2 separate regions of the Homo sapiens genome follow, and region 1 is linked to region 2. Evidence: fine-mapped expression QTL. Tissue or cell type: lymphoblastoid cells. Region 2 holds a variant in brackets; the other region holds the start of a gene. All regions are shown on one strand. Distances are between the middles of the regions.

The links. PIP is the estimated chance that this variant, and not a neighbour inherited with it, causes the effect.
Region 1: it holds the start of GANC, and the variant in region 2 is fine-mapped to the expression of GANC in lymphoblastoid cells (GEUVADIS, PIP 0.91).

What each region holds. Positions count from the first base shown.
Region 1 is chr15:42,272,078-42,274,701 of GRCh38, reverse strand. It overlaps GANC (glucosidase alpha, neutral C), which reads right to left and starts at 1,501. Exons shown (of 24, transcript NM_198141.3): 1 at 192-1,501. The coding sequence starts at 220. It overlaps TMEM87A (transmembrane protein 87A), which reads left to right and starts at 1,269. Exons shown (of 20, transcript NM_015497.5): 1 at 1,269-1,447; 2 at 2,579-2,624. The coding sequence starts at 1,304. RefSeq lists enhancers at 108-1,307, 1,280-1,509, 1,670-1,919.
Region 2 is chr15:42,411,579-42,414,078 of GRCh38, reverse strand. CAPN3 (calpain 3) reads right to left here. Exons shown (of 24, transcript NM_000070.3): 24 at 1,762-2,332. The coding sequence ends at 2,306. ZNF106 (zinc finger protein 106) reads left to right here. Exons shown (of 22, transcript NM_001366845.3): 22 at 1-1,256. Among named protein-coding and RNA genes, the nearest start is that of CAPN3, 53 kb to the right of the region's middle. The variant T/G (reference allele first, on the strand shown) is at 1,270.

The DNA.
Region 1 (2,624 bases), 140 kb after region 2:
GCACCCGGCCTATTTAACCATCCTGAAAGTATTTTATGAGAGGCTATTAATATCAACTAACTTCCCGCGAATTGAGAGAAAAGATAAAGGTCAGCAAATACCAAATACGCAAATAAGAAATGCAATTAAAACACTATTCCCTGTTTCTAGGGACCCTGGGGTCACTCGCTACAGAAGCACTTGGCCTTTACCTTATTTCCTCTTTCACTGCTGCTTCCATGGCTTCTCTGTCACTCCGACCAGCTCCCAGCTCTCAGGACAAGGGCCCTGGGCGATCTTTTAAAAAAGCCGATTGGGTGTCTTTCTAAAATTACAACCAGTACTTCATCGTCAAGTTTCTGGGAAGGGAGTCCCCTCCAGATTCTCATGGAGTGACAAATCTTGACTCTTGCTCCTGGAATTTTTCAGGCCCAAACTAGCGTTTCTACAATGATTTATTTGGCAAATTTGTCTTGATTATGGGTGGCTGATGAGGAACGTGCTTTTGTTAGGAACCGAAACTGGGCGGCGGTGAGGGCGTGTACGCAATGAGTCCTAGAGGGTAAAAATCAAGAGCGTTAAGAACCTGGAAATGCCGAGACGGCCTCCCTGACTGGGACGAAGCATCTGCAGATCTATCTCAGTGGCGGGGTCACGCCACAGATTTTGAAAACTGACCCTCTCTGTCTCCGTTTTCGGTTAAGGGTGGGAAGTGCCGGCCGGGTCTTTGCTGGAGGCTAGGTCTCCAGCCAGATTGTACTGCAGCATCGTACTCTTCAGGGCTAGAAGGGGCCTTTGAAGGTTGTTACACTACCCAGTCTAGGAATCGCGTGTACTCCACCACCGCCGAATTCCAGCCTTTGCTTAAATACCACCCAAACCGGAGAACTCACTACTAGACGCCACTTGGGCAGCCAGGCTTAGGGCTTTTCCAGACTTTCTGGCCCCAAAGTCTGACATTGACTTAGAAGGGATGAAGGGCTGGGGCGAGCGGAAGTAGAGAGCCAAATCCTGCACGGGGTGCCTGCCTGGTCCTAAAACCTTTAACGGCTGGGAGACAGAAAAGACTCAGGCCAGGCTGGCATGTAGCGATCTCTCTAACCCAGCTGACCAGGTTCCAACAGGATGACGCCTGCGCAGTAGGTCCAAAGTCTCACGGCGCACAGACGACTGTCTGAGAGAGGGGCCGCTACGCCGCACAGCAAACAAGCTCCGCGACGTTTCCAGGACCCGGATAATCCCGCCCTTAGAGCAGAGCCGGAAGAAGGCGGGACGAACCGGAAGAGGGTGAAATGCTTTCGGTAGGCACTCCACGGCTGTGAAGATGGCGGCGGCTGCGTGGCTTCAGGTGTTGCCTGTCATTCTTCTGCTTCTGGGAGCTCACCCGTCACCACTGTCGTTTTTCAGTGCGGGACCGGCAACCGTAGCTGCTGCCGACCGGTCCAAATGGCACATTCCGATACCGTCGGTGAGTATTCACTTCACTAACGTCTGAACCTAGAGGAGCAAGGGGTGGGGCTACGGCGGCCCAAGGGGTCCATGAAGGTTCCGCAAAAGTCTCTTCAAAAGGGGTGGGGTTGCTGGGATGGTCTGTGTGGCTAGCCAACTGGGACCCACCTCCCTGGAGTGGAAAGCCGCGCACTTCTGTGATTAGGCTAGCGGGAATGTAAGGGCCACTTCAGCAACAGAAAGGAGTGGTGGAGCGGCTTCTCATCAGAAAAACAGAACTTTCAGTGCCTGACTTGAGATGTAAACTTGATGTACAAACGGAGAGTTGTTTATCTTTCAGATGTTTCACAGAATCCAGTGTCCCCGGGTTGGATAAGAAAGATATGTAAATAGGAGTCTTCATTTCTTTCTTTCTTTTTCTTCCTCTGCACTTCTTGGTCCCTGGGTAATTCTGCTTACGAGATGGTTCGACTTCGCTTCAACTTTGGAATGGCTATTCTAAGCTTTACTGTGTGACTAGAAAGCATAGAGATTTAAGAAATGTGTTTTAACATGGGAATGGTTAAAATTGAAGAAATAGTACTTAAAATTTAATGTGGTAAGGCTAGTCTTTCATTTGGATAATTAACTACATGGGTTGACCCTTTCTGCCCCTTACCCATTTTAAACCTTATTTCAGTAACAGGTATAGTCCTGTGAGCAGACAAAAACCAGATGCAGGGAGGAAATGCTGAAAAGCATTAGCCCCATTAAACCTACGTTGGCCTTTTTGTTTCATTCTGCTCTGCTCACTGACTGTAATGTCCAAATCTTATTTGGGCTTTTATTATGGTAAACGTTATACCTTTTGTTCAGTGGTGAAGATTTTCAGGTGTTCAGTTAGGTTTTTACTTGTTACTAAAATGGTTAATAGTTAAGTCTTTTTAGATTTGAAAATAAAACTCTGGTTATTTGCACACAGAATAGTTCATTAGAAAAAATGATTGGTTATTCTGAGCAGTGATTGGTGAGTAAAGGGAATGAACTGATTAAGGGGTACGTCCCATAAAGATTTAAGTTAAGTTGGAATTTCTAGCAGTCTTAGATAGTTATATGATGCTTTGGTAATTGAAGCCATCTGAGGCTAATTATCTTTCCTTTATGTTTGCAGGGGAAAAATTATTTTAGTTTTGGAAAGATCCTCTTCAGAAATACCA
Region 2 (2,500 bases):
AGAATGTTACTCTCGGTTGCTTTTGTCTAATTCTAATGGCTTAAAGCCAAGAAAACCATAGTATAAATCTTTTTGTGTACCTATGCTAGTGTTTAAATGGCAGTTCGTTGTGATAAAGTATCAGTCACTTCAAGTTTTCTGTGAAAGTTTTTAATTAGGTTAAAAATAATTTTGGCATACGTCTCTACTCAGTTTATAAAGCAGTTCCACACCATGCAAACAAAACTCTAACAGCAAAGGTTATCTTGACCTGATGTTACTTGAATCTGAGAGAAAGTCATTACTTACTACTGCACTCCTGCTTTTGTGGGAAAAATTTTCTTCTTCCCCAGAAGAGTTAACAGTTGAGTGTTCAGCTCCTGACTTACCTTTAATTTAGAGGCAATATTATTACTGTTTAAGTGATTATTTGCTTAACACAGGTTTTATTTTGTCTTTTTGCTGGTAGATTATACAAGGGACAACTTTAGTGATGAGGCATGTGGATGATTTGGTGGGAGTAGGTATATACTTAGTGGAATGGTTTATTTTATGGAAGAGAATTCATTGGAGGTGAGATTGAAGTATATTGTGAAGTGGGATTTGAACAGCACATATGCTCTGGTTTGCTCAAATAACTGCAGTTTATGCTTACATCTAAATTTTGTTTCTGTTACCTAAACGGGAGCTTCTAGAATTACGAAGGCCATACCTGCCACATTTATAAAATAATGGTTTTATCCCTGCCCCCAAATCATCAGGTTCCTCGGGTTTAAGAGAAGTGGTCTAATAGACAGGAATAGAAGTTGTGGTGGAGGTGATTTGGGATAGACTAGGTTTCCTTATGCAAGTGGATATGAGCTCCTCATAGAAACCAGACCTACTGTATTAGACAGTAACCTCTAACCTCACCTCCAAGCCCAAGTATATGGCCCTGCTGGGTTACCTGGTGACTACATTTCCCAGATTCACTCTAAATTCAAGGTAGTGACCCAAATAAATTGGGAAAGGAGGGGGTCAAGGAGGAAAAGCTGTTGAAAATCTTTCTCCTATTTAAGAGAAATATATGCCCTAGAGCTGCTCCAGCACCCTTGGTTTCTGATTTTTTTAATATTGAATATGGATTAGAAGAATGAAATCAGATGACACCTGACTGCAAAAATGTTTATAAGCAAATAGCCTTCTTACATTTTGGTATAAAGCTGTGAACTTCGTAACTTTGTAAAGCAAGATATAAAGCAAATACAAGAGGAAAATAAAGTACTTTTACTAATTGACGGTTTACTTTCG[T/G]TACCTTGTCTGCATATTCACGGCCAGCCCTTTCCACGTTGGCTTAGCGAGGAAGAAGGAAACTGGGTGGAAAACACAGGATGCCTATAGATATGCCGCAGGCCATGGTCCAGAGAAGTTTAGCAAACAAACAGCTGCGTTCAGGGTTTTGTCCACGGTCATGCGACAGGTCAGTTAGTGAGCAGAGGAGCTAGGATAGCTCAATCTCCACTCCATTATTCAGGTAACCGGCCCCTCCCGTTGTACATGACCCATTTATTCTTGATGTCTTTTACAGCAACAACTATTCCTCTGCCTTCCTTTTATGTCTTGGAAAGTATCTGAGCCATTCTTATGCTCAAGAAATAGCAATAGGCATGATTACAAAATTCAAGATTTTGTTTTTGTGTGTGTTTTTCATTGTTCTCTTGTAGGTGATAGGTGAGTATATGATTGGAAGCCATTCAGTCATGCATGGCTGATATCTAAATGTGAGACAACAAAACACAAGGGGACCAGCCATACACATGCCTTTATTTAGATCAGCTTTTTTCAAAATGCAGCCAAACTTATGAGTTGGACAGCCCAAAGTAACCAGCCCTATTCCACTGAGTTAGTTTACCCCACAGCAGTAGAACCCAGTGCTGGTTTGGTTCCTGGCCCATGGTGGGACAGCGTGAAGGTGATGGAGGGCTCTAGCACAAGGAGGTGCTGAGTGCCACCGGCAGGTGCTTCTGCAGACAGCCTAGAGCAAGGTAAGCAGGAGCACTCGCTTCAGAACCGAGGCGGCTCGGACCAGAGGCAGGCACTTTCCTCCACATGGCAAAGGGACAAGGGTTTGTTCTTCCTACCTCATTGCTTTACTAAAGGGTCAGGCTAGGCATGACCGATCAAGGATGGGTAGGGGGTAAAATGGAGGAGGAGCATGACTGATGAGGTGCCTGGAAGCCTGTAGGGGTGTAGCTGCTGGGTCCTTTGAGGTAAATGGCTTTGGAAATAGAGGGTGAAACTGAAATCCTGAGTGATCCTGCATGGCTTTGGATGAGGCCAGCCTGGTTCAGGCATACATGGTGAGCTGCAGCCACTGAAAGAAGTCCCAAGATCAGAATGTAGATCAGAAAAGAGTGACCCCCCCCCCCCCCGCCCTAGGAATCTTACGGGGCAAGAGGAAAGGGAACAGTCCCAGCAGGTCAGACCCCCAGAAGATTTTCCAAGAAGCAGTGGCTTACTGTTTCCTTTCTCCTAGATCTTC